Homo sapiens: one gene and its partners. The protein of the gene in region 3 interacts with the protein of the main gene of each other region in a pairwise test. Each region holds a gene or a part of one and is shown on either strand. Other genes may lie near its edges.

Region 1 (3,750 bases), on a different chromosome or scaffold from region 3:
AGGCCTGTAATCAGGAGGCTGGGGTGGGAGGATTGCTTGAACTCAGAAGTTCTAGACCAGCCTTTGCAACACAGCAAGACCCTGTCTCTATTTTTAAGCCTGTAATGCCAGCACTTCGGGAGGCCAAGGTGGGCGGATCGCTTGAGCTCAGGGGTTCAAAACCAGCCTGGGCTTCATGGCAAAACCCCATCTCTACAAAAAATACTAAAATTAGCTGGGTGTAGTGGTATGCACCTGTGGTCCCACCTATTCGGGAGGGGACTGAGATGGGAGGATTGCTTTTTATTTATTTATTTATTTTGGAGACAGAGTCTTGCTCTGTCACCCAGGCTGGAGTGCCATGGCACGACCTTGGCTCCTTGCAACCTCTGCCTCCTGGGTTCCAGCGATTCTTTTCAAGTATTTTCTTTCTTTCCTTTTTTTTTTTTTTTTTTTTTTTTTGAGACAGAGTCTTGCACTGTTGCCCAGGCTGGAGTGCAGTGGCGCAGTCTCGGCTCACTGCAAGCTCCGCCTCCCAGGTTCACGCCATTCTCCTGCCTCCGCCTCTCGAGTAGCTGGGACTACAGGTGCCCGCCACCACGCCCGGCTAATTTTTTGAACTTTTAGTAGAGATGGGGTTTCACCGTGTTAGCCAGGATGGTCTCGATCTCCTGACCTCGTGATCCATCTGCCTAGGCCTCCCAAAGTGCTGGGATTACAGGCGTGAGCCACCACGCCCAGCCCAAATATTTTCAATCCACATGGTTGAGTCCATGGATGGAGAACCCATAGAAAAGGGGGGCTGCCTGTACACATGAGGTGTTAGAAGGTGATAAATGCTAAGGACAGAGAGCAGGAAACTGAAAGTGTGGGGATTGCTATGCAAAACTGATATATCAGGGAAGGCTTCACCGAGAAGGTGTCCTTTAAACAGACGTGAAACGGAGCTATGCGAGCATTGGGAAGAGCATACCAGGCAGAGGGAACTGCCACTGCGAGGGCCCCTGGGCGGGACTGTGCTCGGTAAGCCTTTGGCAATCCACGCCCAGACTAGGAGCCTGCACCCCTAACCAATGGACCACCCTGTCTGTTTGCCCCTCCCCGGGGCCTTCTCCTGGTGGGTGGGGCCCCCGCAGGTGTGATTCGCTCACTGCACAGCCTGGGCCGCCTGGAGCATGCCTTCTGCACAGAGACCCGGCCCTACAACCAGGGAGCCCGGCTGACGGCCTTTGAGCTGGTCTATGAGCAGATCCCCGCCACCCTTATCACCGACAGCATGGTGGCTGCTGCCATGGCCCATAGGGGCGTGTCAGGTAAGCAGACGGTAAGCCCTGGGGGCGGGGCTCTGGAGCATGGGGCCAGGTAATGACCCCCAACTTCTCATACGCCCCCTCCCCAGCTGTGGTCGTGGGAGCTGACCGCGTGGTTGCCAACGGCGACACAGCCAACAAGGTGGGCACCTACCAGCTGGCCATTGTCGCCAAGCACCATGGCATTCCCTTCTACGTGGCTGCCCCCAGCTCTTCATGTGACCTCCGTCTGGAGACCGGCAAGGAGATCATTATTGAAGAGCGACCGGGCCAGGAGCTGACCGATGTTAATGGGGTCCGGATTGCAGCACCTGGTAAGCTGCCCCCTCAGAAAGGGGACACCCCAGCTCCTGGGCACTTCATGGAGGCAGGTGATATGCAGGTCCTTGTCATCCTTCTGGAACATACACAGCTCCTACAAGCCACTTTTTCTTTTTTCTTTTTTTTGAGATGGAGTCTTGCTCTGTCCCTCAGGCTAGAGTGCAGTGGCACGATCTGGGCTCCCTGCAACCTCCACCTCCCGGGCTCAAGCAGTTCTCCTGCCTCAGCCCCCCAAGTAGCTGGGACTATAGGTGGGTGCCACCACGCCTGGCTAATTTTTGTATTTTTAGTAGAGATGAGGTTTCAACATGTGGACCAGGCTATTTATTAACTACTGACCTCAAGCAATCAGCCTGCCTCTGCCTCCCAAAGCGCTAGGATTACAGGTGTGAGCCACAGCACGCCTGGCCCAAGCCACTTCTTCTAACAGGTGCATCCTGGAGGTCAGATCCAATGTTGGAATTTACAACTAACCGGTTATATGAATGATCTTGAGTAACTGTCTTGCTATTCTCCACTTAGGTTTTCTTAAGAGGAAATAAGAATATCTGGCTGGCCACGTGTTTGTAAAGAAAAACCAAGACGGCCAGGCGAGGTGGCTCACACCTGTAATCCCAGCACTTTGGGAGGCCGAGGCGGGCAGATCACAAGGTCAGGAGTTCGAGACCAGCCTGGTCAACATAGTGAAACCCCGTCTCTACTAAAAATACAAAAATTAGCCGGACATGGTGGCACCCGCCTGTAGTCCCAACTACTCAGGAGGCTGAGGGAGGAGAATCACTTGAACCTGAGAGGCGGAGGTTGTGGTGAGCTGAGATTACACCATTGCACTCCAGCCTGGGCAACAGAGTGAGATTCTGTCTCAAAAAAAAAAAAGAAAAGAAAAAGCAAGATATTTCTACACTTATTTTTATTTGTTTATTTTCATAGAGATAGGGTCTCGCTATGTTCCCCAGGCTGGTCTCAAACTCCTGGCCTCAAGCGATCCTCCTGCCTCAGCCTCCCAAAGCACTGAGATTACAGGTGTGAGCTCCCATGCCTAGCTGCAAGACTTTTCTTAGCTGCCTATACTTCCTGGCTGTGCAACCGTTAGCAAGTTCCCTAAATTCTCTAATTCCCTAAGATCCTCACTGGTCCTATCTGTAAAATGGGCTATGGCTAGAACCTGCTGCATAAACCCAAGGGCGGTCAGTGAATTAACCCACAGGACATTTAGATCAATGACTGGCCCTTTAAATAGTTCATGCACTCAGATGCCGTGGCTCACGCCTATAATCCCAACACTTTGGGAGGCGGAGGTGGGCGGATCACTTGAGGTCAGGCGTTCCAGACCAGCCTAGCCAACAGAGCGAAACCACGTCTCTACTAAAAAAATATAAAAATTAGCCAGGCGTGGTGGCACATGCCTGTAGTCCCATCTACTTGGGAAGCTGAGGCATGAGAATTGCTTGAACCTAGGACGCAGAGGTTGCAGTAAGTTGAGACTGCACCACTGCACTCCAGTCTGGGTGACAGAGCGAAACTCCATCTCAAAAATAAAAAAAAAGGCCGAGCGCTGTGGCTCACGCCTGTAATCCCAGCACTTTGGGAAGCCGAGGCGGGCGGATCACCTGAGGTCGGGAGTTCAAGACCAGCCTGACCAACATGGAGAAACCCTGCCTCTACTAAAAATACAAAATTAGCCGGGCGTGGTGGCACATGCCTGTAACCCCAGCTACTCAGGAGGCTGAGGCAGGAGAATTGCTTGAACCCGGGAGGCGGAGGTTGCAATGAGCCAAGATAGCGCCACAGCACTCCAGCCTGGGCAACAAGAGTGAAACTCCATCTCAAAGAAAAAAAAGAAAAAACAGTTCATGAAATATTAGCATGAACCAATATTAGCATTATGGGGCCAGGTAAAATGGCTCACACCTGAAATCCCAGTATTTTGGGAGGCTGAGGTGGGAGGATCACTTGAGCTCAGGAGTTCAAGACCAGCCTGGGCAACATTGCCAGACCACAATCTCTAAAAAAATTGTTTTGCCAGGTGTGGTGGTTCATGATTGTAACCCCAGCACTTTGGGAGGCTGAGGCGGGCGGATCACCTGAGGTCAGGGGTTCGAGACCAGCCTGGCCAATGTGGTGAAACCCCGTCTCTACT
Region 2 (3,750 bases), on a different chromosome or scaffold from region 3:
CTCGTAACACAAAATGAAAAACCAAGGCTCAATCTCTTCCTGTTCTCTGAAGAAATCATCTCATTGGAAAGAAAACAGAAAGGGAGCGACCAGTTTCCTAGGTCTGTGCTACTTAAGTACCCCATCCTCCCAGTAATCACCAATTTATTTTTTTAATCTTACCTAGTCTTTTTGACCTTGTAAACCTGAAAGTATTGAGTTGTAAAGGAATGTCATTTCCCATGCTTTCCTCCTAAGGCTCAATTGCTGAGTGAGGCGTGCTTTTTGTTCCCAAGTTCTCTAACCCCTGTGAGATATGGCTATTTCACGTGTCTTCTTAGCCCCACAAAATGGCTCCCTTTGTGCCACTTGGCCAGGACCCCGAGGGTAGCCACACATGAATGCAGGTCATAATCGATGTAAAATACATGCTCAAAAAAGTGATTTAAGCTTCTTCCAAGCCTTGAAGAGGATCCCAGACATAACTGTAACCCACCTTAAAGAACAGTGTGCAATTAGCTGAGACAATGTGGACACCTTCCACAGAATCCAAACCCTTCCACCAAGTAAGTTAAGCAAGGACTTGGAAAAGGGTTCCTGTCCAAACACTGTACCCAGTGCCCCAAGCCCAAAAAGCAGTGGGAAGAAGGGCAAGAAAAATCCCCCGCTTCCCAGGTAGCGCTACCACGTTAGAGACAATGGATGTCTCCGGCCCCGCCCAAGAACAAGAAACCTCCTCCTGCAAGGGAACCAGGGCCAGGGATGAACTCACTGGGCAAACGTCAAAGGAGGAAGCGAAGGTAGGATGCAAAGGCCACGGTCCGAAGGTTTAAGCGCAGAAAACCCACTCGGGTTGGCTCGTTCCCCGCGCCCGCCCCCGCCCCCCGCCTTAGAAATGAGCGCAGGGATGGGGAGAAGGGGTCTTTCCTTTGTTAGGAAGGGGAGACACTTGGAAGAGGGGAGGCACTTCGAAGAGGGGAAGAACGATTGGGTCCTCAATGGGGGGTGAAGGGTCGCGATGACCAGCCCCGCTCGACCACACATGCACCTGTCAGGTAGGTCCGAATAAGGAGTGGGGGCACGGCGAGGGTAAGGAGCCCGCCGGACCTGATCGATCCGGTCTCCGGATCCAATGGCTGCGCGCGAGAGCGAGACCAACCGCATGCCACGGGGGAGAGACAGGAGCGCGTGGCCCATCAATGGGACAATAGGACCTGACCATGCATGGGGCCCTAAAGGATCCCCGGGCACCTGGGGGGCCAAGCCCACCACCCTGGGGATGCACCAGCCGGGATGCACACAGGAGAAAGCGAAGCCCTCCCCGAAGGTTCCGATTAACGAAAACCGGCCGTGCTCCGAGGGGCGACCAGCCCCGGCCTCCTCAGCCCCTGACTCCGTGGAAGGAATGAATGGAGAGCAGCAGGGACCCGGGTGGGGCCGGCGCGCAGGGCTCGCCAGGCGGCACAAAGGCGGCGCCGACGGCAGAACCCCGCCACCCGCCCCGGCGCGAGCACAGCGCACGGGGCTCGTTACCCGCAACGACCGGCGCGAGGCCCCGCCGGCAGCGGCCCTCCCAGCCCCTCAGCCCCGCGCGGCTCGGGCGCGACCCGGTCGCCTCACCGGGAGCTATTCCTGCTGTTGGGGTCGACTCCCTTGAAGGTGGTGGTTGTGGTCATGGCGCCGAGGAGCGAGGTAGGCTGGCGCCGGAGCAGAACGCTCAAAGGGTCGGACCCGAGGGGCGCTGGGAAACTCCACACCCAACAGCCGACCACCGCTGCAGGAGCCGCCGCTGCCGCCTGTCCGGCCGATCGACGCCTTTATAGGGTTTTCAACCCCCGCCCCCTAACCCGCCGGCATTGGCCGATTCAAATGAATTCTTTCATTCCTATTGGCTCTCTGGAGTGCCAAGCACCATGCGGCATTACGATGGGCTGTGGCGGCCACGGCTCAGCCTAAGCCCGCCCCCTTCCTGGACTGGGAAGGCCTTGGGACTCTCTCCCCTCCCCCACCCCAAAATCTCGGCGATGATTGGACGGAAGGCGAATCTACCTCGCGCTGGGTGGAAGTCGTGCTGGCTGTCACTGTAAAACGTTACCTGACAGAGGGGGAAGCTCTTTCTTGGGGAGTTACAACCTCGGCAAGCAGAAGGGAGATTTGTCACTGTTACTGTTCTCTCATTTGCTTTACTGATGGTGGGATAGTAAGGGCATCCTCCTTAAAGGATGAAAAGTACTGCAACAAGTTGACATTTATCTGTTGAATACCTACTGTGTGTCCCATTTAGAAACCTAATAGTCTCAAAGCAGCCGCACAATGAGTCAGCAACAGAGAGCGCACCAAGATGATCCCTTTTAAAAGGACTGGAAATTCCTTACATTTTAATGTTACTGTTTAGTTGTAATGGGTGGTGCATGTACTGGACCAAAATTACAGTCGCTCCTATTTGGGGGCCTATTCTAAGGCTGGTTAATGCCTGGCACCAGGAATGGACTCATTCCCTGCTACCAAGACTATGGAAGCAGCTCAGGCCTCTGCAGCTGTTTATAACCCTTAAGTCATGACTCTTCCACCTGTCTGGGTAAATCTATCCATGCGACAAATGCAGACACACTTGGAGGATTCAGGAATGATGGTTTACAAGATCATAATAGGAAAGCCTTGGGCAAAAGAGGGCAGGCCCTTCTCATGTCTTGCATATTTCCTCAAGGCAGATGTCTTTGCTTGTCTCAATATTTCCATAATAATTGAACCACATTCCTCTTTGCAAAGCCACCTTTCAGGTAGTTGGAAGTTTGTATTCTGGGCAGTCTAGGTTAACCACCCTCCCCCCCCGGGCTTTCATGAAAAGCCAGTGAGAAGTTCTGTTCTAGAAAGCACGGATGATGCATTTATGTGCTTACCACAACAGCACGAAGCGCACCACTTGTTTGTGTTAGAATCTTCCCTTCTTTTTTTCCTTTCTTTTTTTTTTTTGTTTTTGAAGTGGAGTTTCGCTCTTGTCACCCAGGCTAGAGTGCAATGGCGCTCAATGCAACCTCCACCTCCCAGGTTCAAGCGATTCTCCTGCCTCAGCCTCCGTAATAGCTGGAACTACAGGCGTGCGCCACCACCCCTGACTAATTTTTGTATTTTTAGTAGAGACGGCGTTTCACCATATTGGCCAGGCTGGTCTCAAACTCCTGACCTCAGGTGATCCATGCTCCTTGGCCTCCCAAAGTGCTGGGATTACAGGTGTAAGCCACCGCATCTAGCCAAAATCTTAGCTTTTTTTTTTTTTTTTTGAGACAGAGTCTTGCTCTGTCGCCCAGGCTGGAGTGCAGTGGTGGCGCGATCTCTGCTCACTTGCAGCCTCCACCTCCCGGGTTCAAGCGATTCTCCTGCCTCAGCCTCCCGAGTAGCTAGGACTACAGGTGCGTGCCATCATGCCCGGCTAATTTTTTGTAGTTTATTAGTAGAGATGGAGTTTCACCATGTTAGCCAGCATGGTCTCAATCTCCTGACCTCGTGATCCACCCACCTTGGCTTCCCAAAGTGCTGGGATTACAGGTGTGAACCACCGCACGCCCAGCCAATCTTCCCATTCTTTCTTTTTTTGTTGTTGTTGTTTTCGTTTTTTTGAGACAGAGTCTCGCTCTGTCGCCCAGGCTGGAGTGCGGTGGCATAATCTCGGTTCACTGCAAGCTCCGCCTCCCGGGTTCACGCCATTCTCCTGCCTCAGCCTCCCAAGTAGCTGGGACTACAGGCGCCCACCACCATGCCTGGCTAATTTTT
Region 3 (3,750 bases):
GTCCTTGATCCTCTCCTTTTCTCTATACTTACTCCTTTGAGGGTTTATCTAGTCTCACAGATTTAAATATCTTTGATATGCTGACAACTCTCTAATTATCTAATTCACCCTGCCCCCAATCCAAGTCCAGACCTGCATATCCTAAAATTGGATACCTCCACTTAAATGTTTAAGAGACATCTCAAACTTAACATATTTAAAACTGGGCTTCTAATATAACTGACATACTTCCCAGACCTCCATCCCTGAAATCTTTGCCTCCTCTGGCATTCCCCATTTTAACTATCTACAACTCCCCATTCTTTCAGTTACTTAGGTCAAAAACTTGCAGATGGACGTGGTGGCTCACGCCTATAATCCCAGCACTTTGAGAGGCTGAGGCGGGCAGATAGCCTGAGGCCAGGAGTTCAAGACCAGCCTGGCTAACATGGTGAAACCCCTTTTCTACTAAAAATGCAAAAAATTAGCTGGGCATGGTGGCGCACACCTGTAATCCTAGCTACTTGGGAGGCTGAGGCAGGAGAATCTCTTGAACCCGGGAGGCAGAGGTTGCAGTGAGCCGAAGTTGCGCCATTGTACTCCACCTTGGACTGGAAGAGTGAAACTCTGTCTCTAAAACAAAACAAAACAAAACCTTGCAATAATTCTTGACCTCTTTGTGTCCAATATACATACAGTCTGTCAAGCAAATCCTTCTGGCTTTAAGTCTAAAATACACCCACAGTCACGCCTGTAATCCCAGCACTTTGGGAGGCCGAGGCGGGCAGATCACAAGGTCAGGAGATCGAGACCATCCTGGCTAACACGGTGAAACCCTGTCTCTACTAAAAATACAAAAAATTAGCTGGGTGTGGTGGTGGGTGCCTGTAGTCCCCGCTACTCGGGTGGCTGAGGCAGGAGAATGGCATAAACCCAGATGGAGGAGCTTGCAGTGAGCCGAGATTGCGCCACTGCACTCCAGCCTGGGCAACAGAGCAAGACTCTGTCTCAAAAAAACAAAACAAAACAAAACAAAACAAACAAACAAAAAACAAACAACACCCACAGGCCCACAGGACCTGACCACTTCCATCCTACCTACCACAATTACCCTGATCCAAGCCACTGCCATCTTCTGACTGAATTACTGACTACATTATTGCAATAAGTTTGAAACAGATCAGTCAGCTTCCACCCAACACCTATCCTCAACGTGGCAGCCAGAATGATTCTGTTAAAGCCTAAAATTATGTCACTCTTCAGCTCAAAATTTCCAAAGGCGCCTCATCTCTGAGTAAAGACCAAAGTCGAAGCCCTATATGTTTTGGCTCCCCGTTTCCTCTACTCGTCTCTAGCCAAGCCCTCCTTGCTGTTCCTTGACCATACCAGCTATGTCATGCCCTCAGGGTTTTTGTACTTGCTGCACCCTCTACCTGGAGCATCTTCTCTCAGATGCCTGCATGTGTGCTTTCTCACGTCTTTCTCTACTCCCATCAAAGTAGTTTCCTGCTATATTTTCCGGTACACCATTTTCACCTTCTAATATACTATATAATTTATATACATATTGCTTTTCTGCTCCCTTCTGCCCCCATATAGAATGTAGATTCCAGGAAGGCAGGAATTTTGATTATTTTATTTATATACTATATCCCCCACATCTGGAACAGTACATTTTAAAAATGAAAAGCAAATGTTTCTCTGATGGATAAAGGGTGAAATAGTTTTAAATATAGCTTTTCCTCTCTAAAATTAAGACCACCTGTCCTAGTATCCTTTCCTCAGTGAACTCGGTTCTTCAGTAGGGATTAAATACATACATTTCTGAAGATAAGAAAAAGCTCTATTTATATGAATATGTATATACACATGGCTTTTTTAGTTCTCTAACCATATTTTACTTCCAAATCTACTAGTATGATTTTAGCCTTTGATTAGCCACTGAAGTGTACCTATGTCAATTTTGCAGAGTTAAAGATTTAAAAAATGAACTGAAAGGCCATTTTTACCTTCTAAGAACTTTTATTGATACGTTAAAAAATCATAGCAATTACTCATTCTATAAAAATGTCAATTAAGCCACTGGAGCTTGAAATGCAAAAGCCTTCCAATTATTAAAAAAATTGCTAATCTTGTGACTAGTACTTCTGCTTTCTCATCTTTAAAATATGGATAATAATAGTACCTACCTCATTTGGTGGTGAGGATTATAAAGTTAATAATACACATGAGGTGTCTGGAAGAGCACCTATGCACAACTTAAGCTCAACCAAAGTGATGGCTGTTATTCAGTTACTTCTACTACCTGTTGGTACTGTTATTGCAACTATTAACAATACAATCTGGTTCTCTTCTTCATAAATAGTTTTTGAATGTGTTAGTGTGAAGCTGGATGATTTGTCAAGTTCTATATTTGAATATTTCTATGTATTATCTTAAAAAGCATAACCTGCAACAAATTAAAGAGATAAAACTTCCTCCAATGTCATTGGTCATTAGCAATAATATAATTGAGGGTGGAGAGACAAGCTAGACTTTCTTTTCTAGAATAGTAGCACTGGTTTTACTTTGTATTGCTGGAGCTTATCTCAAAGAGCAGTAATAACGCAACAACTGGATTTTGTTTAAATGGCCAAGTCCTAAGCATAGTGTGGCTTTAAGTAGAATGCGAGTATAAGCAACCCCTATGCCGCACTTCCAGAGTTTCAGGATAAAGTGGAAAAAAGTACTAAGGCTTCTTGGGCTTAAAATAGTTATAATGATGTGAAGATAAAGTGCTGTTCTGCCTTGAGATATTAACACCACTAATAAAACCTCAAATATATAGTTATGTAAATGCTCCTGTATATTCTATTAAAATAACTAATGATTAGGCTACCATTCATTTTTGAGGTTCAAAATTGGTTTCATGGACGTGCTCAATTTTATTCTAGGCCAAGTTTTGAAGTGTTAATGTGCAGAAACAAACACCAAAGTGACTTTATTTACCTTATTCCTTGAAACGATTTTTTGATATTCATCCTTCAAATGCTACATATCGCTCCCCTGCTTTAATGGTTCCTCAATATATAAATTCCAAACTCCTTACAACAACTTACTTTAAAAGCCATTCATGGTATGACCCTGCTTAACTCCTCTAGATTCATCTACCATTCCATTCTTGAACACTATGCTCCAGCCTGAATGGACTACTATCAGTTCCCCGAACTTTCCCTACTCTCTTTCTTCTGGCTTTTTTATAAACATATTCTTCCTTGCTTAGAATATTCATCCCTGTCCCTTTCTTCATCTAGATTATTCCTACCAAGATAACTTCACCTGGGAAACTCTGCTAGATGTACCTCAGTCACAGTTAGATGCCTTCACAATACCAGGCACCTTCTGCTTTTCTGCCTACCACATGGCCTGTCTACCAACGGCTTGCTTTGTATTTCTACCTAGGCTAAGTGTTGTGAGAGCAGAGACCATGTTTGCCCTAAACATTATTTTATTTTCAGTGTCACCTTATAATGTGAGCTCCATAAAGGCAAGCATCTTTGCCTGTTTTGTTTGCTGATATTACCCCACAATATGTAACAGTGCTTGGCACATGGCAGATAGTCAATAAATACGTGATGAATGAGTGATTGAGCTTTGTGTTTTACATACTGTCATTTTGCTTTGAAGTATATTAACATACTCAAAATAATCACATCGGTAGATATGAGGTCTTACGAAATATTCTAAAACTTTTTTTCAATATAGTAAACAGATGAGTAATGAATAAGTATA

The links.
Region 1: the proteins of SH3GLB1 (region 3) and MRI1 interact in binary tests that used the Homo sapiens proteins (3 or more experiments, as listed by UniProt).
Region 2: the proteins of SH3GLB1 (region 3) and JPT1 interact in binary tests that used the Homo sapiens proteins (3 or more experiments, as listed by UniProt).

What each region holds. Positions count from the first base shown.
Region 1 is NC_000019.10:13,767,446-13,771,195, forward strand, and holds part of MRI1 (methylthioribose-1-phosphate isomerase), read left to right. Parts: intron 1-913; coding exon of another isoform or gene 914-1,002; exon of another isoform or gene 1,003-1,115; coding exon 1,116-1,292; intron 1,293-1,378; coding exon 1,379-1,603; intron 1,604-2,132; coding exon of another isoform or gene 2,133-2,152; exon of another isoform or gene 2,153-3,750.
Region 2 is NC_000017.11:75,152,743-75,156,492, forward strand, and holds the start of JPT1 (jupiter microtubule associated homolog 1), read right to left. Parts: upstream 1,771-3,750; 5' UTR 1,656-1,770; coding exon 1,600-1,655; intron 1,502-1,599; exon of another isoform or gene 163-1,501; intron 1-162. UniProt on the Homo sapiens protein: Modulates negatively AKT-mediated GSK3B signaling.
Region 3 is NC_000001.11:86,735,523-86,739,272, reverse strand, and holds part of SH3GLB1 (endophilin-B1), read right to left. Parts: intron 1-3,750. UniProt on the Homo sapiens protein: May be required for normal outer mitochondrial membrane dynamics. Required for coatomer-mediated retrograde transport in certain cells. May recruit other proteins to membranes with high curvature. May promote membrane fusion.